Linked DNA regions of Homo sapiens. The protein of the gene in region 7 purifies or fractionates together with the protein of the main gene of each other region. This does not show direct contact. Each region holds a gene or a part of one and is shown on either strand. Other genes may lie near its edges.

The links.
Region 1: the proteins of INF2 (region 7) and TUBGCP6 purify together in Homo sapiens (affinity purification with mass spectrometry; one large-scale study listed by BioGRID and IntAct). This does not show direct contact.
Region 2: the proteins of INF2 (region 7) and ERF purify together in Homo sapiens (co-immunoprecipitation; 2 studies listed by BioGRID and IntAct, with this or other methods). This does not show direct contact.
Region 3: the proteins of INF2 (region 7) and ZNF195 purify together in Homo sapiens (affinity purification with mass spectrometry; one large-scale study listed by BioGRID and IntAct). This does not show direct contact.
Region 4: the proteins of INF2 (region 7) and PPFIBP1 purify together in Homo sapiens (affinity purification with mass spectrometry; one large-scale study listed by BioGRID and IntAct). This does not show direct contact.
Region 5: the proteins of INF2 (region 7) and VPS41 purify together in Homo sapiens (affinity purification with mass spectrometry; one large-scale study listed by BioGRID and IntAct). This does not show direct contact.
Region 6: the proteins of INF2 (region 7) and ARHGEF10 purify together in Homo sapiens (affinity purification with mass spectrometry; one large-scale study listed by BioGRID and IntAct). This does not show direct contact.

The regions. Positions count from the first base shown.
Region 1 is NC_000022.11:50,235,024-50,238,523, reverse strand, and holds part of TUBGCP6 (gamma-tubulin complex component 6), read left to right. Parts: intron 1-3,500. UniProt on the Homo sapiens protein: Component of the gamma-tubulin ring complex (gTuRC) which mediates microtubule nucleation.
Region 2 is NC_000019.10:42,247,069-42,249,598, reverse strand, and holds the end of ERF (ETS domain-containing transcription factor ERF), read left to right. Parts: coding exon 1-1,134; 3' UTR 1,135-2,030; downstream 2,031-2,530. UniProt on the Homo sapiens protein: Potent transcriptional repressor that binds to the H1 element of the Ets2 promoter. May regulate other genes involved in cellular proliferation.
Region 3 is NC_000011.10:3,372,647-3,376,146, reverse strand, and holds part of ZNF195 (zinc finger protein 195), read left to right. Parts: intron 1-2,471; exon of another isoform or gene 2,472-2,555; coding exon of another isoform or gene 2,556-2,570; intron 2,571-3,500. UniProt on the Homo sapiens protein: May be involved in transcriptional regulation.
Region 4 is NC_000012.12:27,677,706-27,681,205, forward strand, and holds part of PPFIBP1 (liprin-beta-1), read left to right. Parts: intron 1-1,783; coding exon 1,784-1,934; intron 1,935-2,227; coding exon 2,228-2,356; intron 2,357-3,500. UniProt on the Homo sapiens protein: May regulate the disassembly of focal adhesions. Did not bind receptor-like tyrosine phosphatases type 2A.
Region 5 is NC_000007.14:38,724,192-38,727,691, reverse strand, and holds part of VPS41 (vacuolar protein sorting-associated protein 41 homolog), read left to right. Parts: intron 1-703; coding exon 704-783; intron 784-1,365; coding exon 1,366-1,446; 3' UTR 1,447-3,500. UniProt on the Homo sapiens protein: Plays a role in vesicle-mediated protein trafficking to lysosomal compartments including the endocytic membrane transport and autophagic pathways. Acts as a component of the HOPS endosomal tethering complex.
Region 6 is NC_000008.11:1,822,704-1,826,725, forward strand, and holds the start of ARHGEF10 (rho guanine nucleotide exchange factor 10), read left to right. Parts: upstream 1-1,222; 5' UTR 1,223-1,410; intron 1,411-3,343; exon of another isoform or gene 3,344-3,407; coding exon of another isoform or gene 3,408-3,432; intron 3,433-4,022. UniProt on the Homo sapiens protein: May play a role in developmental myelination of peripheral nerves.
Region 7 is NC_000014.9:104,717,118-104,720,617, forward strand, and holds part of INF2 (inverted formin-2), read left to right. Parts: intron 1-445; coding exon of another isoform or gene 446-529; intron 530-1,677; coding exon of another isoform or gene 1,678-1,706; 3' UTR 1,707-3,500.

The DNA.
Region 1 (3,500 bases), on a different chromosome or scaffold from region 7:
CAAGTTATTGCTTTATTCTGTACATGTCTGCTAATAGTATTTTTTTCTGTTTTTTTTTTGTATTTATTTATTTATTGAGGCGGAGTCTTGTTCTGTTGCCCAGGCTGGAGTGCAGTGGCACCATCTCCAGCTCACTGCAACCTCCGCCTCCCGGGTTCAAGTAATTCTCCCTGTCTCAGCCTCCTGAGTAGCTGGGATTACAGGCACCTGCCACCATGCCCAGCTAATTTTTGTAAAAACTCAGAACCTTCCAACACCAGGTTCCCTTCACCTGGAACATTCTTCAGCTCACCATAATTAGGCAACTCCTTTCATCCTAAACAAACTAGGTCCCCCAAACTCTCCCTCATAAGTCTGTCTGTCTGTCTCTCTCTCTCTCTCTCTCTTTTCTTTTTCTTTCTTTGTCCTTGTTGCCCAGGCTGGAGTGCAATGGCGCAATCTTGGCTCACTGCAACCTCTGCCTCCTGGGTTCAAGCGATTCTCCTGCCTCAGCTTCCCAAGTAGCTGGGATTACAGTGGGATTACAGGCATGGGACACCACGCCTGGCTAATTTTGTGTTTTTAGTAGAGATGGTGTTTCTCCATGTTGGTCAGGCTGGTCTTGAACTCCCACCGTCAGGTGATCCACCCGCCTCGGCCTCCCAAAGTGCTGGGATTACAGGCATGAGCCACCGTGCTGGCTGTATTTCATTTATTAACTCCCCCTTTTCTAGGTTCATTTTTTCGGGTTGCTGATGAGGAGACATGGTCACTCACTCTCCTCATCACCCTGTTCTGAATACGCTGGAGACTGCGGAGCTCCCGCACGGTGGGGCCCGGCGGTGGTTCCTAGGCTGCGGAGCTCCGGCACGGTGGGGCCTGGCGGTGGTTCCTATAGGGAGGTGCTGCTGTGTGCCTGGCAGTGTGCTGAGCACAGCCTGGGCAGCTCCTGTAGGGACTTTCTCTGCCCAGGGCCCTGCAGAGTGAAAGTGCTGTGGTCATCTCAGTGTCCAGTGGCTGACCTGCACAGGGCCACACAGTGGCTGGACCTGAGTTTACGTCTCCTGGGCCCCTCTACTCCCTGATCCCACGGCCCCTGACACTGCAGTCGGGTCAGCCTGATGCTGTGGTTCAAGTTCCTTTGGCAAATCGTTTGGTCTTGTTTCATTTTAAATCCCAGCCACCTGCTAGTTTCCTGCTGTGATGAGCTCTGACCAGCAGGTGGCTAAAGAAACTGCCGCCTAGCCAGAAATTGAGCCTTCTCCACTCTCCAAGACATCAACCCTGCTTTCCCACAGGTCCCAAGACCCCACGGGGGGCCACTCGCCCCTGCTGTTGCCCACCCTGAGAACCACCATTGTCCGACTGCTCACGGCCCTCCCTGCTGCTGAGCTGCAAGGGCTGGGTTAAGGCGGAGGGAGGCCTTTCAGACCCTGGAATGGTCTCTTTCTCTGCATGTGCCACCCATCTGGGGGAAGCATTTTGCTACATTTTGGGTTGTGTTCTCTCTGGGGACCTGTTGGGGCGGGGGGTGTTCACTCCAGAGCCTGCAGGATCCTGCGCTGTGTCTTTGTGTTTCCGCTGTGGGCTTTTTTTCCCTCAGTTCTGAGTCACCAAGAGGGGTGTGCAGCCATGGCAGTGCTGGGGGCCAGTCCTGGAGGAGATGGGGTGGAAGTGGCTGCAGGGGGAAACAGGGTTGTGCCCACAGCCTGCACCCCTGCCGAGGCCATCTGCAGGAAGAAATGCAGGGGGCAGACAGAGGCTCTGAGAGGCTGTGTCTTTCTCATGCTCATCTCATCCTGAGGGAGCCTGGGCAGGCGTCTGGGGTCCAGAGCGGCCCCACCTGCTGACTGGACATCTCAGGGCTGGTCTCCTTCCTCCTGCCCCCTCCAGCCCACCCTCTTCATAGCAGAGGTGGCCAGTAAAAGTGTGTTTCTTGGAGCTGATTGTTTTCGCAGGGAGGACGGGGGTGTGAGTGTGTGTAGTGCCAGTACATGTGGTTTCACAGCCTCAGCACCAGCAGAAGGCAAATTTCCTCAGAGTTGCATGTGCCCAGGGCTGCCTGTACCAGCCCACCTTACCTGTTACTGTCTTAAAAATTTGTGAACTTAGCCAGGTGCAGTGGCTCACGCCTGTAATCCCAGCACTTTGGGAGGCTGAGGTGGGCGGATCACGAGGTCAAGAGATCGAGACCATCCTGGCTAACACGGTGAAACCCCATCTCTGCTAAAAATACAAAAAATTAGCCAGGCATGGTGGCCCGTGCCTGTAGTCCCAGCTACTCGGGAGGCTGAGGCAGGAGAATGGTGTGAACCCAGCAGGCAGAGGTTGCAATGGGCCAAGATCGTGCCACTGCACTCCAGCCTGGGTGACAGAGCGAGACTCCGTCTCAAAAAAAAAAATTGTGAATTTTTTTTTCTGTATCCATCTCTTACGGTTTTTCTGAGGTGGGGCAGTAAAATTTATATAATGTTTTTACCGTCTTAACCAGTTGTACAGCTTTGTAATGCTGTGTGTATTTTCACTGCTGCACAGCAAGTCTGCAGGAAACTCTGAACCCATTAAACAGCTCCCCATTCACTCCACTTTTTTTTTTTTTTTTTCCGAGATGGAGTCTTGCTCTGTTGCTCAAGCTGGAGTGCAGTGGCACGATCTTGGCTCACTGCAACCTCCACCTCCCGGGTTCAAGCCATTCTCCTGCCTTAGCCTCCTGAGCAGCTGGGATTACAGATGCCCGCCACCACGCCCAGCTAATTTTTGTGTTTTTAGTAGAGTCAGGGTTTCACCATGTTGGCCAGGCTGGTCTTGAACTCCTGACCTCGTGATCTGCCTTTCTTGGCCTCCCAAAGTGTTGGGATTATAGGCATGAGCCACCGCACCTGGCCTCCACTTTCTGTCTCTAGGATTTTGGCCACTGTAGGGACCTCATGTAAGTGGAGTTGCACAGTGTTTTGTGATGGCTCATTTTACTCCACTTGGCGTCCTCGAGCGCCGTCCCTGTGGAGACAGTGTTTTGTGATGGCTCATTGCACTCCACACGGCGTCCTTGAGTGCCGTGCCTTCTGGAGCACGTGTCTGAGCTGCCTTCCTTTTTAAGGCTGAATGATGGGCAGGGGTCTGCACGGACGGTCTGTGTTTATCCTCCTCTGTTGGGGGCTCAGGCTCCTCTCCCCCTGGCTGTTGTGGATGTTGTTGCCGTGGACGGGGGTGTGGATGCTGCTGTGGACAGGCATGTGGATGTTGCCGTGGACAGGCATGTGGATAGGCATGTGGATGTTGCCGTGGACAGGGATGTGGATGCTGCCATGGACAGGAGTGTGGATGATGCTGCCGTGGACAGGGATGTGGATGATGCTGCCGTGAATAGGGGTGTAGATGCTGCCATGGACTGGGGTGTGGATGCTGCCATGGACACGGGTGTGGATGATGCTGCAGTGGATAGGGTTGTGGATGATGTTCCCATGGACAGGGGTGTGGATACTGCTGTGGACAGGGGTGTGGCTGATGCTGCCGTGGACAGG
Region 2 (2,530 bases), on a different chromosome or scaffold from region 7:
CTCTTCTCGGCTGTGGTGGCCCGCCGCCTGGGCCGAGGCTCAGTCAGTGACTGTAGTGATGGCACGTCAGAGCTGGAGGAACCGCTGGGAGAGGATCCCCGCGCCCGACCACCCGGCCCTCCGGATCTGGGTGCCTTCCGAGGGCCCCCGCTGGCCCGCCTGCCCCATGACCCTGGTGTCTTCCGAGTCTATCCCCGGCCTCGGGGTGGCCCTGAACCCCTCAGCCCCTTCCCTGTGTCGCCTCTGGCCGGTCCTGGATCCCTGCTGCCCCCTCAGCTCTCCCCGGCTCTGCCCATGACGCCCACCCACCTGGCCTACACTCCCTCGCCCACGCTGAGCCCGATGTACCCCAGTGGTGGCGGGGGGCCCAGCGGCTCAGGGGGAGGCTCCCACTTCTCCTTCAGCCCTGAGGACATGAAACGGTACCTGCAGGCCCACACCCAAAGCGTCTACAACTACCACCTCAGCCCCCGCGCCTTCCTGCACTACCCTGGGCTGGTGGTGCCCCAGCCCCAGCGCCCTGACAAGTGCCCGCTGCCGCCCATGGCACCCGAGACCCCACCGGTCCCCTCCTCGGCCTCGTCATCCTCTTCTTCTTCTTCCTCCCCATTCAAGTTTAAGCTCCAGCCGCCCCCACTCGGACGCCGGCAGCGGGCAGCTGGGGAGAAGGCCGTAGCCGGTGCTGACAAGAGCGGTGGCAGTGCAGGCGGGCTGGCTGAGGGGGCAGGGGCGCTAGCCCCACCGCCCCCGCCACCACAGATCAAGGTGGAGCCCATCTCGGAAGGCGAGTCGGAGGAGGTAGAGGTGACTGACATCAGTGATGAGGATGAGGAAGACGGGGAGGTGTTCAAGACGCCCCGTGCCCCACCTGCACCCCCTAAGCCTGAGCCCGGCGAGGCACCCGGGGCATCCCAGTGCATGCCCCTCAAGCTACGCTTTAAGCGGCGCTGGAGTGAAGACTGTCGCCTCGAAGGGGGTGGGGGCCCCGCTGGGGGCTTTGAGGATGAGGGTGAGGACAAGAAGGTGCGTGGGGAGGGGCCTGGGGAGGCTGGGGGGCCCCTCACCCCAAGGCGGGTGAGCTCTGACCTCCAGCATGCCACGGCCCAGCTCTCCCTGGAGCACCGAGACTCCTGAGGGCTGTGGGCAGGGGACCTGTGTGCCCCGCACCCCCCATGCTTCTTTTGCTGCCTTAAGCCCCCTATGCCCTGGAGGTGAGGGCAGCTCTCTTGTCTCTTCCCTGCCTCCTCCCTTTTCCCTCCCCACATTTTGTATAAAACTTTAATTTCTTTTTTTTAAAAATGGTGGGGGTGGGTGGGTGCCCAGGGCTAGGGGCTATTCCCTGTCTCTGTGGGTTTCTAAGCTCTGGGCAAAGTGGTGGTAGGGGGAGGGAGGGGGAAGTTAAGGGGGTCACCTCCATTCTGGGGAATTTATATTTGAATTGAGGCTTTGGCCTTAACACCCAGGAACTTTTCTATTACAATCGCTTAGGAAGTAAAGCCTTGTCTCCCTCCCTGTTCTCTGCCTCTTGTACCCCTCTGACCCACCCGCTCTGCCCCACTCCCAGCCCTCCTCAGCCCCAGCCCTGCCTGCCCTGCCCCTCCAGGGGGCCATGAGTGCCTAGGTTTCTCATACCCCACAAGGTCACAGCAGGGGAGGGAGGGACAATTTTATAATGAACCAAAAATTCCATGTGTTGGGGGGTGGGGGGCGGAGGAGGGTGAGGGGTGCCGCCCATGGGCCACAAATCTCTACAAGTGCCTGCTATCCCTCTCCCACTCCCCACCCCAGCACCGGTCCAACCCCTTCATCCCCAGCTGCTCCTAGGACTGGCCCATGGGCAGGCGGGTGGGGGGATGGGAAGGGGGTGCCCTGAAACCAAACTGGAAGCCCCCTCTGCCTCCCAGCTGGGGCCTCTGGGGTGGGGTGGGGGGCTGTGGTCAAGCCTTATTCTGTATTGGGGACTGAGGGTGGGGGGAGTAGAGGGGCCGCTGGAGAATGTATTCAAAACAATAAAACTTTGGACCTTTGGATGCAGTGATCAATGTCCTAGGTGCTCGGTGCAGCCCCCTGAGGGCCACAGCTTTTGCTTGATTCTGAAGGAGGGGCCCCACCCTGGCTGCTAGTGGGTCTGTGGCCAGATCAGTATAGAGGGCCTAACCCTAATCAGAATGGGCCAAATCCAGGCCTGGGAAACCGTCTCCTGACCTCAGAGGCACATGAGCCCCAGAGCTTGATGATAGTGGTCTCAGGCATGCGCCGGCTTCATCAGACTGCTCCTCTGTTCCATGGGGACCTTGTCCTTGAAAGCTCTTCCCACTGTTTTTCACCACAACCCCACTGCCCTTGCTCTTCTGATTGCCTGGATGCCTTCCCACTTGTGGCTAGGAATTCTTCCCACACCCCAGGTCCCCAGTGAAGACCAGGAGCTCCCTTTTGCACTGCCCCTCGCACCCTGCCCACACCCCTCTCTTGTTGCTCTGAGTTCAGCTGGGAGTCCTTTGGAGAACAGCCTGTGGTGTCTCTTGAAATG
Region 3 (3,500 bases), on a different chromosome or scaffold from region 7:
CACAGGCAGATGCAGTTAGAGTTGGGATGGAAGGAAGCTGGGGAGGACTTCCTGGGTATGGAATCGTTATTATCCTGGGGCTGTTTCTAGACTTCGTCAAATAAAATAAATTTAGCTTTAGATAGGAAGTTATTGAACTCTAAAGGAGGATTGCAACAGGGAGAAGGTAGCAACTATCATGGATCTCATGGCCATAGAGGGCATCTGTGCAGGGTCACCAGGAACTCTCTCACCAGCACCTGGAGTCTTTTGGACATTCAGGAGTGCACTGTGCAGACGGGGCTCAGGCTGACAAAACGGTCTATCTGTGCTTCTGTTGTAGAATAAGAGAAATGAGTCACCCAGGGTTTGTTCCTCCCCTCAGAGAAGAAACCTCATTGGTATCCACATGGGAATTACTCCAGTTTTTCTGGTACTTCAGTAAAAAACAAAAATGAGATCTGGAGATTCAAACTGATAAACTAATTGATTCCATCCTGTGTAGCCATTAGGAAAACAGAGAAGGCAGCCATGGTCCCCGCAAGCCAGAAACTTTTCCATTTCCAGTAACTGGATAAATCATTGAATTCAGCGTCTTGGGGTCAGCATGAAGAAGGGAGTGGTCAAAGGGACTTCTGCTTCATTTGGGCCATTTTCCTGATGTGGTTGTTGTGAGTTCTGATGTCATATTGAAGGGATATTCAGACAGACAAGGTGGTGGTGGTATTATTTCTGTTGCTTTTGCCCGGCTAAAAATAAATATTTAGCTTCTACCATATCTGTCCTAGAAAATCCTAAAGGTTTCGGTTAAATTGCTTGTTATTTTATGTTATAAAATAGACAAGGAAGTGGCCAAAATAGATTAAAATTATACAAACCCTGGGATTTAAATTTTGGGGTGGGGGGCAGTTTTAGGAAAAACAGAATTGTAAATACTCTAGTAGCATAGAGAGCAGAATCCTGCGTAGGGCCCTCTCCCTGCCCAGACATGCCCAGACTCTCCTTCTCTGAGTCTCATCCAGGTCTGGCTTCACCCTGGACTCTCCTCCGACAGAGTTAACTACAGAATTAAATCAGAGTTTTGGGTTTAGCTACAGAGTTAAATCAGTTTGGAGTTTAACTACAGAGTTAAATCAGAGTTTGACTCCTGCTGCCTCTCCGGAACTGATACACAGAATTTTCGGAAACCCCAAAGCAGATAAATGGGATCAAAGGACTCTCTATTTTGGAGCCTTAATTTTTCTTTTTTACTAACACCAGCGCTGTTAGAGACATCGTATCCAGCAAGCTCTTTCTCAGTCCTGTGGGTCTAATAGTTGCTTCACAAGCCACAAGAAAGTGAAGATAAACACAACAATGGAAAGTGCCTTTGCACTACACTTCATCCCCTCTGTATCCCTTCCATTGGTCTATCTGGAGCTTTTATCACTACACTTTTAAAACGTTAATGATAGGAAAATAGAAGAGGAACCACAAAGCCTGGTCCCTTCATCTATATCTTGAGAGTTGCAGGACACTTGGTTCCATCACCCAGGGTGTGGTGAGGATTAACTCACATGACGTGAGGTGCCCAGCACAGTGCTGTCACATACATCCGAGCACCCCGTGCCTGCTTAATAAACACTGCATTCATACGTGTGTACACATTGTTTTCCAAATGCAGACAGACTCAGACATTGCTTCCTTCTCCAGCCCTGGAAAACTTTAAAGAGCCAGGAAATAATGTAATCTTTCAGAATAGAGATTGGCTGTCTCCATTTGCACCAGAAGAACTTATGTTGTGGTCAGAGGGTTGGGTGTAAGGGACTGTGCTGGGGCTGCTTTCTTTAGCTGAGTGTTAATGATCACAAGTCTTGGGGGAGCAGCATCACCATTAATGGCAGAACTGTTAAAAAATCCAACCCATGAACCCCTTTGAAATCTTCAGAATCACATGACTTAGAGTGGGGCCAAAATTACCAAAAGATTCATATGCACATTGAAGCTTGAGAAGCAAGGCTTAGCTAAATGGTTCTCAGCCTGGCTTCTAATTAAATCACATGGACAACTCAAAAAAAGGCCCTCACCTTTGCCCTCACAGATTCTGCCTATTGGTTTGGGTGGAAGCACCAGTGCTGTTTAAGTCACATGCATCATGGGATTCTAAGGTGTGGCCAGAATCAGTGATGGGGGGTTTCAGATGCATTTGTACGAGTTGAGCTCAGCCTTGGTTCCAAAGGGAGGTCACAGGGCCTTCTTTGCCTAGGTTTCAGAGGCCAGCTCAGTGCAGCTTATACTCCAATTGCTGAAGCAGAATTGCTGTTGTTTAGCAGGAGAGGGAACCTGAGAGCAGGAAGAGAGAAAGTCACATTTTGATCTCCATGTAGAAGTTTACTGTTCCTGAATCTCTTTTATAAAGAACAGAAAAGCGTGGACTTTTTCTGTATTTCTTGGTCTTTCTGTTGATGGTTGTGGTGGTAGCAGGTGAAGGGGTTGTGCTAACACCTTTAAAGGCATATTCTCACGATGCAGGTGTGATTTGTCCAGAGAATCTTTCCTAAGAGGAAATCCCAGAGAAGCAGGAGAAAGAGAAAGAAATGGCTGGTGCTCAGGTAAATGCATCTCAGGTCAGGGGTTGTGTCCACTTTTGCTCCTGAAATGTCATGTGTTTAGAATTTGGAAACCTTTACTTCTCTACTTGTGGTGTTTCTCCATAGTAAGTTTGTTTCAACTACTTTTTTTTCTTATAATAATGAAGGGTCTCTGAAAATATTTGTTTTCTATATACCAAAGCCGTCTCTCTGTTATCTTCACCTTGACTTCTTATATGCCATGAAGAATTCTTACCATGACTTTATGACCTGCAGTATTAAAAAGTTCACTTCGTGGCACTGAACTTGTGGATACCCAGGATTCCTCTTGAGGATGGGGTGGGTTTTTGGATATCAGCAAAGAAGGGAAATGTGCACTCTTTAGGTTTCATCTGGATGCTCCATAAGCTGCATGCAGAACAGGACTAAGAAAATAAACATTTAAACCAGATGACATTTATCTCTCAGAATAACTCAAAGCATTCTGGAAAAGAGAAAAATGAAAAGACACTTGCTTTTTAGAATGCTAAAGAAAGACTCTTTTAATACACTATTAGAGATTACTGCTGGGCATGGTGGCTCATGCCTATAATCCCAACACTTTGGGAGGCCTAGGTGGGCAGATCGCTTGGGGCCAGGAGTTCGAGACCAGCCTGACCAACATGGTGAAACCCCATCTCTACTAAAAAAATACAAAAATTATCCAAGCGTGGTGGCACATGTGGGTAGTTCCATCTACTCCGGAGGCTGAGGGACGAGAATTGCCTGAACCAGGGAGGCAGAGGTAGCAGTGAGCCGAGATCGCGCCACTGCACTCCAGCCTGGGCTACAGAGTGAGACTCAGTCTCAAGACAAAAGAAAACAGATTACAGAACCTGGGAGATATTTGTCAGAACCTGGGAGATATTTGTCAGAACATAGGAGATATTTATTTGTCAGAACCTGGGAGAT
Region 4 (3,500 bases), on a different chromosome or scaffold from region 7:
AGGCAGGGGACAAATGGGGAAAAAAGTTCTCAAAATAAAAAAGAGAAATATGGTAGTTTTAAGATGAGGATAAGCTAGGCAGCATTTTCAGGGGCACCTGTAGCCATCGTGGTTGAAGGATTTGAATTGGGAAAGTTCCTTTGGGTTTTTCCAAAAGGTGCTGTTACCTTGTATAGATATCCACCTATCTATTCACATGGACCAGCAAACGGGACTTCTCTCTCTATCGATATAAATGTCTAGAATGAACACTGGATGCATAAAATAAACTGATCTGTTCAGACAACTATTTTCAAATAGTTTTTTTTTGCATCTTTCTTAGAAGAACTGTTTTGTTAATGCTAAGAGGTAAATGCTGCTTATTATAACCTATAATCACAGCTCTGCTTTGTAGAAAAATCAACTTTCTGCAACTCATAGATCTTGCTGAAACACTGTTCTTGTGATTTTAGTACAACTTTTACTTTCTTTTATAAAGTATAAAATCTCACACTGAAGACAACAGTAGCCCTTGTGTTTGCTAGTATGGGATTGTCCACTAAGGGACAGCTAAAAGAACTGAAATAGTTAATGCTTGGAGATCTGAGAGTGGCAACTGTGGATGTGATTCTTTTAAGGTAAAATCAACAGGCACTTACTTTATGTCAAAAGAAAAATTAGGCATATCCAGTTCATTCTTCTCTCAGTGCCTAGGATTTAATAGATTGGAATACATTTCAAAAATAAAGAATTGCTTGAACTGGGTAACTGATTTGATGTAAATGCCAAAGGAGAAGGAGTAAAAGGAAAATGACATAGAGTCTGAGCTAGAGTAACAGGGACAGTATTAATTAATATTAACCAAATATCAAATAAGAACATTTAAGAGACGAGGCCAGGCGTGGTGGCTCACGCCTGTAATCTCAGCACTTTGGGAGGCCGAGGTGGGTGGATCACGAGGTCAGGAGTTCAAGACCAGCCTGGCCAAGATGGTGAAACCCTGTCTCTACTAAAAATACAAAAATTAGCCAGGTGTGGTGGCGGGTGCCTGTAATCCCAGCTACCTGGGACACTGAGGCAGAGAATTGCTTGAACCCAGTAGGCGGAGGTTGCAGTAAGCCGAGATCATGTCACTGCACTCCAGCCTGGGAAACAGAGTGAGACTCTGTCTCAAAAAAAAAAAAAAAAAAAAAAAAACATTTAAGAGAGAAAAAGACTCTCGGGGAAATTGGATGAGTTTGTGAAGTCCCAGATGTCCCGACACACTGAATTGGGAATATCACAGGCATTTAGATACAGAGCCTAGAGAGAGAGATTAGGCCCAGAGATTCTGATCCTCTAGAGGGCATTTAGAATATAATCTTAAAGTGGCATGGGGGAAGAAAAAAAAGCAGGGGTGCTACAGCAAAGACACTATCAGATGACAGATGTAGGAGAGTGGTCATGTCAAGAAGCAAAAGGAGATGATTTTGAAGGATGTAGCAGGTAATCAACAGTACCACGTGCTATGGAAAGATTGGGAATAATTCCATTATGAATTGAAATCACTCAAGGAAAGAATGTGGCAATCCTATCACATTCTTTTAATCTCCAAAGGGCTTGTAATTTTATTAAGTTTACACACAGTAAACTATGGAGCAGAACGTATATGTGTGTTCCATTTCTAATATTTACAAGGTGCTCTTTGTAAGTCACTGATTATAGACCAACAGAAGAATTCTTAACAGTTCTAGAACCAAGAAGATTAACATCATGTTTATTCCATATTTTAAAATTCATTGTCTGCATTCTGCTCTTGGAGTAGCTGAAACAGAAAAAGAGACAGCAGAGCACCTAGATCTGGCTGGTGCTTCTTCTCGGCCAAAAGATTCACAGAGGAACAGTCCCTTCCAGATACCGCCTCCATCTCCAGATTCCAAAAAGAAATCCAGAGGTATCATGAAACTCTTTGGAAAGTAAGTAAAGCAGTAAACAAGTGGAATGGGCCCTGTCTTACATGTTGCTTAAAAGTGGCTGGACATGGGTATGGACTTTGTAAGGCCTTTGTATTCCTCTTATGGAAGGAAGTTTGGATTGTGATGTGGGATTTATTAACTCATTGGGTCTTAGTTAAAGTTTAAATTTAAATGTCTATGTTAACAACACAAAGAGGATTAGTTCCAGTAGGTGCACTAGTTAAAAATGTTCTGATTAACAAGTCTAAGGCCTCCTCAGGTCTAATACTGGCCATGTGTGTTGTCTTCTTTAGACTTAGGAGAAGTCAATCAACTACATTCAACCCAGATGACATGTCTGAGCCTGAATTCAAAAGAGGAGGGACAAGGGCAACCGCGGGGCCCCGATTAGGTTGGTCTCGAGACTTGGGACAGTCTAACAGGTAAGAAGAGCCAACTGATAGACTTTTGCATCTCTACCAAGCATCATAGCCTCATGAGTCCTGCAGTATTAGTACTGTCATTGGGTTAAACAAAGTCATTGCTTAATGCTGTGCCTAATGAAAGGGGCCATCATCTTTAGAGCCGTGCAATTTGTCAATGGTTGATGAACAAACAGAAGGTGAGGGCTGTGCGAACTAGGGGAGAGGCCAGAGCTAAAGTGTCAGCAGCATCTGTGTTAGAATGGCTCTCAGACTTAAATTTTACGTAGATGGTAATTACAAGTACTCTAAAGCATAACTTTGGAAAGATGGGATAGCATAGTGGTTAAGAGTATGTTCTAGAATCAGACCACTTGGATTTGCTTTCTGGCCTTACCACTTTCTACCAGCTGGGTGACCTTGAGCAACAGCTTCCACACCCTGTGCCTCAGTCTCCTCATCATCATAATTAGTACCTACCCCAAAAGCTGACCATGAAGGTTAAATAAGTTAATATGTGTTAAATATTTGGCAGATAATAACTACTCAAGAAACATTAGCATGTAACAGAATCTATGAAAGCACTTAAAGACAAAAATGCTATCAGAATCCTTGTATTTATCAGGACTATATAATATTTTATCCATTAAGATTCTAAGAACTGCTCTGACACTCTTAACCAAAGTTTAGGGCTGGCTTAGAACTACTACATTGACTCACTGTGCATAAGAGGGTGGGGTTGGCAAACATAAAGTACAAGACATTGATACCAAATCTTTTAACAGTATAATAGACTGACTAGAAACCCTTTACATATAGCCCCTCCCATACAGGTGGAACACTGGACATAGGTTACATCAAGGAGGAAACTCTCTTTGGCCTTCTTCAAATACCAAACAGTTTCATTTGCCATATGTTGTCTTTGAACACAGTAGAGCTCCTTGTACTATTTAAAAAAAACCATTCATCTTCCCCTCCGCACCCTGCCCCCACCCCGGAACAAGAACACTATTTGTGTATCTAAGTAAAAGAAAACAGGAATTTTGCTTTGATTGTTTCCTACACTCAGTGACAACATATTGCCCTCTTCTCATTGGTTACCATATGGAAAGAAACCATAATTCTGCTAAAGTTAGTTCAAATTAGACTTAAGTTTCTTTCAGTC
Region 5 (3,500 bases), on a different chromosome or scaffold from region 7:
TACTTAGGTTCTTTTCTAGAGGAATTAGATTTGGATGTTTAAGTGCTTCTGTTGAAAACTGCATGGGCTCAGGTGAAGAAGTGAGCTTCCATAGCATTTCAGACAGTGTTGCAGCAAAAAGGAACCACATACATTCCCACTCTACAGTTAGATTTAACTCCAAATTTACTCTGCTGATGACACTAAATCTTACCAAAAATAAGCTGGCCACACAGAGCAGGAACAGATGAGGGGATCTGCCCAAGCACAAGTGCAGTAAAATGCAAGGTCACCACAGCCTGGGCTTGTAACCCAGGTCCGCCTCTGAGTCAGTGTGTGGTCTTGGCAAAGGTAGCAGGTGGACTGGCAAAGCATTTTTATGAAGCCACAGACTCAACTTCAGCTGTGGTGTATAATGATTATAGGGGTTAGGGGCGCATTGGCACATACACTTGCTGGTTTTCCTACAGTTGTCCTCAATGTAGTCTGGGTAAGTGACACAGAGGCTAAGCAAGTAACCTGTGAATCGCATAGCAACATGATTATAATACCTGTTTTGTGTCTGATCATACCACCCCTCAGGAATGCTTTTGTAAATAAGCCATTCTCTAAAGGCACCTTATTGCTGAAAATTAAACTGCAACTCGACTTTCAGTCGGGATTGGTTTAAAATGATCTTGCTTGTTGCATTAAGTTCTCCTCCTTTCTCTGCCCTCCTCGCCAGATGCAGCTAAGCCCTTCAGCGTGGTGGTCTTCCATTGCCGGCACATGTTCCACAAGGAGTGCCTGCCCATGCCCAGCATGGTGAGTTGGCAGCTTGGCACCTATCAACTAGAGGGAAATTAACACACTTAGAGGAATGTGCTTTAAACTGTAACCCTTCATCCTTATGGCTGTATGGGTTAAAAAAAAATTACAATGTGGATTTATATCACATAACAAAAATTAATCTAGTTTTCAAATGTAAAAATATTTAGAAATGTTCTATGTACTATAGTAAACATAAAAGCATACCCATTTGAAGGAATTCATTCAGGCCCAGTTGACAGCTGTCATGCTGTAGAGATGAGCAACAACAGTAGAGAGCCATTGTGTATCTTATGTGTTTCTCAGCCTGATTTGTGTTCCATGATGCTATCATTTTTTTAGTGTCATATTCCTCCAGGTCACATTAGACGTATTCTGCTGTTGGGTGTCCTTGGAGTCACAGAGTAACAGCTGATCTAGACTAAATCCTATGTTAACCAGAAATAAACTCCAGAGAAAGGAGTGCCATCCTATTACTTCCTCTCCACCCCCTGACTAACGCTACCTTAGTGTTTCTGAATATGAGAGTAGAAAAAGAAGATCATTTTTTAAATATGTGTTTTTAAATTGCATTTTTAGAACTCTGCTGCACAGTTCTGCAACATCTGCAGTGCTAAGAACCGTGGACCAGGAAGTGCAATTTTGGAGATGAAAAAATAGCTCATTTCTCCTTGTCAGTCTCCTTGTCACCACTCTTTTTGAGACTGTTTTTGCAACAACAAAAGCATTTGTTGACACTCGTGCTGTTAAGAGATTTGTTTATGTTTATATTATACTCAAAAACAATTTCTTCATCTATTCCTGTACTAATGGTTTCTCTTTGCAGTTCACAGAGAATTTGGGGCTCTCTTCATGCCTTGAAATTTTGGGGTCCATAGTGAATATTTTGTTATTTATTTGTTTGGCTCATTCTTTATATAGTAATGGAAACATAAGTCTAGGAGTTAGAAATGAATTTTTTAGACCTTAGTAAAACCATTTAACCATAAAATGGACAACTGAGAATTCTCCCAGCTGCCTGAAAGCGTCGCCAACTGTGGTTATCCTGCAAGCTGCTACCTGCAACTTGGACGTTGTTTCCACGTGCTCTGCTGGCTACGATTCTTGCATTCTGGGTTTGGCTTTTTTCTGTGTCATCAACTATGGTTATCCTCTAAATAGGCATTTAATGAAACATTGTACAAATTGTCACTCATTTGATGACACCTGGGAATAACATTAGCAGGCTGATGTCCTGCACCATTATGTTTACTAATCACATGTTCTGTGTGCTGTGACGACTGTCAAAGAGTATCTGGCCATGGCGGACACTCAGCATTTGTTGATTGAATAAATGTTAGCTCTTCTCATTGTGAAGGACTCACTTTTACTGGGATAAACAAATGCAGTTAAGAATTCTGGCACCCTTGTAAGGAAGAAAAGAGAGTTCAACACCTTCGAGTCTGAGCGCTTGTGGCTAGAGTTTGCCAGGAGGGAGGAAACCAGTGACCCTGAAAACTGAGGGTGCCTCAGGAGCAGTGGGACCACCTGATGCTGAAGGACGGACTAATGATGTTTCCTCTTGCCTTCTCTGGTGCCTCCATTGCCCTCATGGAACAGAGCATATCATAGAGGGAGAAAAGTCAAACTTGTAATTGTGTCTTACAGTTACTGGCTTCATCTTCCTTGGGATATATGGTCATCCTCTAATGAGTGTAAAAGTGCGCAAAACACATCCTTATTGTTCCTGATCTCTTAGTCCCATAAATGGGAACAAATACAGCTTTCTGCTTCTTTCTTTTTGGGGAAAGGACAGGGTGCTAGTGAGTACTGACAGCATGCCAGCTACCGAAGTCACCCAGCCATTCCCATGAGCAGCAGTTCATTTAATTGTCACAGCGTCGCCAGGAAGAAGATCTGATAAACCTAGGTTTACAGATAAAGAAAGCAAAATGTAGAGATGTTGTTGAGGTCACAGAGGTGACTGCCTAACTTCAGAGCAGGGCTTCTGATCCCTTTAAGAAATTACAGGGCCAGCCGGGCATGGTGGCTCACGCCCGTAATCCCAGGGCTTTGGGAGGCCTTGGCAGGTGGATCACCTGAGATCGCACGTTCGAGACCAGCCTGACCAACATGGAGAAACCCCATCTCTACTAAAAACACAAATTAGCCAGGCGTGGTGGTACATGCCTGTAATCCCAGCTACTCAGGAGGCTGAGGCAGGAGAATCACTTGACCCCAGGAGACGTAGGTTGTGGTGAGCTGAGATCGCGCCATTGCACTCCAGCCTGGGCAACAAGAGCAAAACTCCGTCTCAAAAAAGAAAAGAAAAGAAAAGAAATCATAGGGCCAAGTTCAAAGGAAATGCACAGAACATATCTTCACATTAGAGTTAAGAATTCTCTAGCAAACAACAGATTTTTTTGTTGTTGTTAGTCACAAATACTTAGAACTGGAAGGCTCTTTGTTATTATTGAATGTACCCCTCAGCCTTCTCAGCATTTCCTTATCCCAAGACTAGTGTGCTTTCTGCTACACTGCTAGTTTTCAGTTTTGTTCTTACCCAATTGTTTTTTCTTTTCAACATTACCAATTTACAGATTCAGTTTATTACATTTACATTAATCCTCACTTATGATTTGAGCAAGCTCATTTCCAGAAAAGTTTACTTTAAGATCATCAATAGGATTTGCTAATTTCAGTGAAGTCATTTTGCTTCAGGGGTAAATTATCCT
Region 6 (4,022 bases), on a different chromosome or scaffold from region 7:
TTTTCCAGCCATTGTAGTCTTTCTATGTTGGCTATGATTTTTACATAGTCCAAAATTTTCAGGGAAATAACTTATTCCAGAGCACACAAGCCTTAAGGGCAGTTAATGTTTAGATTAATTTCGTGATACTTAGCATCCCAAATAGCTGTTTGTATTTCTTCTATAAAACAAGTGAAAGGGGCTAGAAATCTCTAAGAAGTCTGACAGTTCTAAAACACTGACTTAAAATTACTTCTATGATTCGGAGATTTGGGTAGGAGAAGGCATAGAAATAAATCTAGCATCTGCGAACACACTTGTTAAATGTGCTGACCAGGTAAAAGATAACATCCTTTAGTTATTTTGGTTAAAAATGTCTTTGTTTCTCGTTTTTTTTTTTCTTTAATAGTAATTATAACGATAATCTGTTTCCTTTTTAAAAGTATAAGACAAATAAATGCTCAAAGTAAACAATTCCAATAACTCAGAAGGGGCCATTCCCTGGAAAGGTCCCGGGAAAAACGAGCGCTTCCTGGCAAGAAGCAAGCTTCAAAAACTGCCTCGGAAACGTGGCTGAAGTCATCGCATTTCCAAACGCCCAAGCCTTGGCTGGTCCAGGGCAGCTGGCGCGGAAGACCCGGAACGCCCTGTGGGCAGGGCCAGCTGCGGACGGAGGGACGGGGGCTCAAGGGCGGGTCGGGTGGGGTCCCGACGCCCCCTCCTCGGCTGGGCGCACCCCGGGTGTCCGCAGGGAGGGGCGATGTTCTGGGGGGGGGAGCGTCTGCCCGACGCCCCCTCCCTCAGGTGAGCTCAGCCCGTGGGGGTCCGCAGAAAGGGCGGTGCTCTGGGAGAGGGTTAGGGTCTGCCCGGCGCACCCTCCCCAAGGGGCGCAGCTCTGAGCCGGGAGCAGGCTCTGCGGGGAGGATCCAGATGTTGGGGGCGGGGAGGGCACTCGGTCTGCCCAGCGACCCCTCCCGAAGTGAGCGCGGCCCGGGGTCCGCGGGGCAGGAGATGATCCGGGGGCGGGAGCCTCTGCCGCGCGCCCCCTCCCACGCGTGCGCAGCCTGGGCCGGGCGTTGGGCAGCGGGAGGGGGCGCGGGCGGCCACGTGGCCTCGAAGGAATGCGCGGGCGCGAGGGCAGGGCGCTGCCGAGAAACCGGCAGGCTCTGCGGCCAATGGGCGCCCGGAACGGTCTGGGCCCGCCAATGACAGCATGGTGGGTGGAGCAGGCCGTCCGGGCGGGAGGGGCTGGGCGCATCCCTGTAGCCGGCGGGCGCGCGATCCGGGACGGACGGGGTCGCGGGGGACGCGGGGGACGCGGGGGACGGCGGGGAACGGCGGGGGACGGCGGGGAACAGCGGGGGACGGCGGGGAACAGCGGGGGACGGCGGGGAACAGCAGGGGACTGCGGGTCGCGTCCTGGCCGCCGAGGTGAGTGCGGGCCCCGCGGACCGTGGGTCCCCTCGCGGGCTTCTGGTTTCCTTTGAGAGTTGCACTTCTGCCCGGCTCCCCCGAAATCGCTGGGTCCCACCCGGAGGTGGCTGCGCCCCCGACCCCCTGCGCAGATGTTTCAGGGAAGGGGCTGAGACCCCCTCCCCCCGAGCAGCTCCCCCTTCCGCGGCGCCCCCGGCCCCTCAGGATAACGGCGCGGGCCTGGGCGGGGGGAGCAGGGACTGGCAGCAGGGACCCCTGGCCCCAGGGGCAGGAGCGAACTCCGATCGGCGGAAGGAGCCCGAGGGGCGAGCTGGCTTCGCCTGGGGGGTCGTGCAGTAACTTAGATTTTCCGGTAAAGGAGAAGAATGCGGTCCGCCTCAGGATGCAGAGAAGGACCGGTGTAAGGAAAGCCGGCGTCTTTCCCCCGCACCCTACCTGTCCCCCTACCCCACCAGTTCCCCGCACCCCGTGTACCCCGCCTGTCCCTCAGCACCCCCTGTTCACTCTGCACTCCACCAGTTCCCCGCACCCCAGCTGTCCCCCCGCACCCCACCTGTTTACCCTGCACCCCAGCTGTCCCCCGCGCCGCAGCTGTCCCCCCCACACCCCACCTATTCCCCCGCACCCCGCCTGTCCCCCCGCACCCTACCTGTTTATTCTGCACCCCACCTGTCCCCTCGCACCCCACCTGTTCCCCCTGCACCCCACCTGTCTTCCCCACACCCCACCTGTTTACTCTGCACCCCAGCTGTCCCCCCACACCCCACCAGTTCCCCGCACCCCGTGTACCCCGCCTGTCCCTCAGCACCCCATGTTAACTCTGCACTCCACCAGTTCCCCGCACCCCACCTGTCCCCTCGCACCCCACCTGTCCTCCCCACACCCCACCTGTTTACTCTGCACCCCAGCTGTCCCCCCACACCCCACCTGTTCACCCGCACTCCACCTGTCCCCCCGCACTCCACCTGTCCCCCCGCACCCCACCTGTCCCCCCTGCACCTCACCTGTCCCCCCGCACCCCACCTGTCCCCCCGCACCCCACCTGTCCCCCCGCACTCCACCTGTCCCCCCGCACCCCACCTGTCCCCCCGCACCCCACCTGTCCCCCCGCACCCCACCTGTCCCCCGCACCCCACCTGTTCACCTGCACCCCACCTGTCCCCCCGCACCCCACCTGTCTCCCCGTACCCCACCTGTTCCCCCGCACCCCACCTGTCCTCGCACCCCACCTCTCTCCCTGAACCCCACCTGTCCCCTGCACCTCAACTGTCCTGCACCCCACCTGTCCCCCTGATCCCCACCTGTCCTCTGCACCTCACCTGTCCCCCTACACCTCACCTGTTTACCCTGCACCCCAGCTGTCCCTCGCACCCCAGCTGTCCCCCCCGTACTCCACCTGTTCCCCTGCACCCCACAGCCCGCTGGTGCCCAAGAAGCCAAGGTAGATTCTGAGGAAACTGCCCTAGGTCCACAGACGCCCTGCCCACCTGTCCCAGCCCCACTCCCCTTCCATGGGCCCCTGGGCACTGAAGGTGAGGTCTGAGTACCCCTCCCGACTGTGGCCAGTAGGTCATGTTCCCAGGCAGCAGTAGACGAACTTGCTGTTGTCTGATATTGATTCCAGTCACTAACTTTGGCTGCAAGTAAAAATTCTCATTGACTCAAGATGTAACGGGTTTTAATTCTTTTCTCTGGTTAACCATAACCTGAGTACGGACTGGTCAGTATTCTAGATTCTGTGCAGGAGTGACTTAATGTCCATATGGGTGGAATGCTGCAAGGAGGAACAATTTCACTGTTGCTGATTAATAATATGTTTTGAACACCTGCTTTATAGAAAATAATTTTTATTCGAAAAGAGAGATGATTACTGAGGTTTACACGTCATGTATTTTTAAAAACACACTTTGTCCCTGTCTGTCTCTCACAGCATTTATTTGCTGGCTTTAGCAGCCAACATCGGCAGTTACGGATGCATAACTCTTTATAGACAGATGAGACCTCCAGGATTTCTCAGCAGTAAGAAAAGTCATTTGTATAAGGTGCTATTTGTAATTCATTAGTTGTAGACAGTTGGGGGTGAAGTGAAGTTAAAAGTTATTCAGAATAGCTTTTTATGTTTTTAAAAGTTGATGCTTGACTTCCAGATGTAACCACATTTGTCTTCTGGGTGCTTTGGTGTGCTGCCTTTCCTCTGCAGTTTGTGTGTGCATACGTGTGCGTGTGTCTTTGTGTATGTGTTTGTGTTTGTATGCATGTGTGTGCGTTTGTGTGTGCGTGTGTTTGTGTGTGTGCTGTGTGTGTGTGCGCTTTGTGTGTGTGTGTGTGCGCGTGTGTGAGTTGTAGATAGAGGCGTTGGGTGGTGTGGAGGGTGTGGAGTTACAGACCTGGGTTGAGGTGGGGAAGCTTTTCCCTGGCCCTGTGAGTCCAGACTTCTCACGGGACTTGAGGGTGCTCACTTACGAAGTTGCTAGAAGGCGTTGTATGGGGAAGTGCTGCTTAAAACAAAGATGTTTGGCATAAATTAGAGCAAACTGGAAATGCGCTAATGACGGTTGTATTCTGTAAGCGATGTGAAAACGTCATAGTGAGATGTAAGAAAGCGCTGT
Region 7 (3,500 bases):
TGCCCCCCTCCAACTGAGGCATCTGAGAGTTTCTTATAAACATCATGGCACTGGAGCCCTAAACTCGCCCACAGACACCTGAGAGCACAGCCGTCTTCCTCAGTCCCCCCCGGGCAGGGTGCGCTGCCGTCCTCCCAGTCCGCCCCCACCGGGCAGGGTGCGCTGCCGTCCTCCCAGTCCCCCCCCCGGGCAGGGCGCGCTGCCGTCCTCCTAGTCCGCCCCCCCGGGCAGGGTGCGCTGCCGTCCTCCCAGTCCCCCCCGGGCAGGGTCCGCTGTGGGGCGCTTCACGTCCACATGCTTCTAATACTCGGTCCCAGTGCAGATGTGCCACTTGCCCCAATAATTCCTTCTCTAGTTGTTGCTTTGTTGTTTTTGCAAACAAGATTGTATCCAGAGTCACATGCTGTGTTTGGTTATCATATCACTTCAGTCTCTTTTGTTCTAGAACATTCCTGCCCCTTTTTGTCTTGTATGACATTGACGTTCTGGAAGATAACTTCACTTTGGGTTTGCCTGATTGCGCCCCCAAGTAGGTCCAGGTTGAGTTTTGGGGCAGGAGTTCTACCCCAAGGGATGCCATGTCCTCCCCAGCTGGGTGGGGACGTTTGTGGCAGCAGCGCTGACCACGGCTGCGGGGGTGGTTTCTGAACCTCCACTGCACGAACACCACGCTGTCTGGTTAATAAGCACCGGTGGTGACCTGTGGAACCAACCGCTGCAGCGCGGTTCTGTGTTCGCCGCCCCTCGTCCGAGCGTTCCCCCCTCCCCTCCCTTTTTCCATCACGTGAGTTTTGAACGTGCAGTAATCCTTCACTGCCACTGCCGTGCATTTGATGGGGACCAGCGGGGGCCCTGAGCGCTTCCCATCTTTGGCACAAGCCCCTGTTCCTAGCTCACCCCAGACTTGCTGATCCCCCCATCCCTGCACGGGCCTTGGTCTTGGCCATTTCTCCAGGTTCCCTGAGTGGGGAATGGTGCTGAGACCCTCCTTTGAGTGATTGTTTTGGATAGTTTTTGTTTTCTTGCTGTCTGTTTAGAGTAGTGGTTCTCAAACCCTGCTTGGGCCATCCCACTGGGGAGCTGGGACACCACCTGGCACTGTGGTGGCAGTGGGGGTGACACTCAGACAAGGGCCATCGAGGGCCCCTGGACCAGAAAGCGAAGAGGGCGTTGGGGGCAGGAGGCCTGTGGGGCCATGTGTGGGGGCCGTCTGGGTGGCGGGAGCTGTTGGGGCAGGGCTGAGCGCCCTCAGCAGCCCACTGGAGAAAGCGCTGCTGGGGTCCTCGTGTGGGGCCCAGGGCCCGACGTGGAAGCAATGGAGGGCTGCAGGGGGTGGCAGTGGGGATGAATGAGTAAGGACAGAGTGCAGCCTGGGTCTCAGACAGGGGGTGGGGGACAGGCCACAGAGATTCCCTATCTCAGCAGAGAGGAGACAGGCTCAGGCTGCCACGCCTTGCCAAAACCCAGCCTGGCCAGGCCAGCCCGGCACCTTCCACCTAGATAAGTTGTGCTGCTCCAGAGAAAGAGCCTGGGGTCAGAGTGGACCTGCGATGCATGGCACAACCTGCTGGACAGTGGCGATGAGGGGTTCAGGGACCTGGGCACCCAGAAGCGGGCACCTGATATTGTACCCAGCAAAACTGCTCCTAATAATGTCATTTTTTCTCTCTCTTACAGGCCTCAGGCCCAGGCCCAAGGCCAAGTGAGAGAGCCCAGGCCACAGGACATGCTGCCATTCTGCCAAGAGAGGCTCTTCTGGGGGCCAGGCTGGGACTGGGCCCCGGAAACCAAAACTCCGTGCCTTACCCAGCCGGGGCCCTCCTGGAGCCTTCTTGGGGTGTTGTGGCTGGGAACCCGACAGGCACCAGTGCCCTGCCAGGCCTGGTGCCCTCCTGGACCGCCTGCACGTGCCAGCCTCCCACCTGCTTCCTAAAGGCAACCCTGGCCCACACCCGCATGCGCCCGGTGCAGCCTGCCAAGGGCCAGTCGGGGGGTGCTGCGTCCTGCCAGTGTCCACCACAGCTCTGCCTGCCCTTCAGCCCAGCAAGGTTTAATCAAAATGCAATGCTTTGCAAGTCTTTACTGCTTGGAGGTGGCTGAGTTGGGGGCCCTGGGCAGGGGTAAGCTGGCAGGCAGTGCCATGGCAGGCCAGGGTCCCCTCCCATGGGGTCTGGCCCCCGTTCCAGCATGTCCAGCCCCTGAAGTTGGAGTGGGGGGCGGTCTGCCTTTGCTGCCACTGCCAGGCCTCTGCCCTGCAGCTGAAACTTGGCCATCACATCAACAGAAAACCCCTCCCAGTGCCAGCTGCCCAGCGTGGGCAGGCCCTGGGGACAATACAGGTCCACCTGAGGGGCTGCAGGGTGACACCCAGCAGCCGCTGCCCCCTCACTGCCCACCCAGCGAGGGCAGCCTACCCGAGCCTGCCCCCTGCCAGGTGTGTGCCCTGAGGCTGGCGGCTGGATGCGTGGCCAATAAAAAGCAGACCTAGCCCGGTGTGCGACTGTCGTGTTCAGAGGCTGCGGGAGTGGGCGGTGGACGTGGGCTCCCACAAACATGGTGAGCGCTGGACAGGCCCCGTGTGAACACTCACTGTTGAGGGGCCCCCAGGCCCCGTGTGAACACTCACTGTTGAGGGGTCCCTGGGCCCCCAGGCACCGTGTGAGCATTCACTGTTGAGGGTCCCCCAGTCCCCCAGGCCAGGGGCTGTCCCTGGAGCCCTCAGGAGGCAGTAAGAAACATCTAGAAGAGGGCAGACCCAGTGGTGAACCGCATCCAACAGTGGTGAGATGGGTGCAGCTCTACAGGGGCGTAATTTACAAACCACCAGACTCCCTGGTTATGTGTGTGCTGCGGTGGTGTTTGCTCTCCAGCAGATCAAGTTTGTGCAATGATCCATTTTGAGAATCTCTCCGTCACCCCAAGAAGTCCTCTCGCACCCATCAGTCCGACCCCTTCCCCGTGCTCCTCCCCAGCCCTGGCAGCCACTCACCTGCACTCCAGACGCTCCAGATGTCATGCATGTCTCCTGGCTTCCTTCGGCTGTTTTCACGCGCCATCCTCACGGCAGGCTGTATCAGGACTTCATTCCATTTCATGGCTGAAGCACATTCCATTGCATGCAGGGACCACATTTTGTTTGTCTGCTCTTCTGTCCATGGACATCTGGGTTGCTTCCAGTTTGGGGCTTCTGTGAATCCTGCTGCTGTGGACATTTGCGTAGTCCTCGTGTGGATGCTGCTGTGGACGTCTGCGTCGTCCTCGTGTGGATGCTGCTGTGGACGTCTGCGTCGTCCTCGTGTGGATGCTGCTGTGGACGTCTGCGTAGTCTCGTGTGGATGCTGCTGTGGACGTCTGCGTCGTCCTCGTGTGGATGCTGCTGTGGACATCTGCGTAGTCTCGTGTGGATGCTGCTGTGAACGTCTGCGTAGTCTCGTGTGGATGCTGCTGTGGACGTCTGCGTAGTCTCGTGTGGATGCTGCTGTGCACGTCTGCGTCGTCCT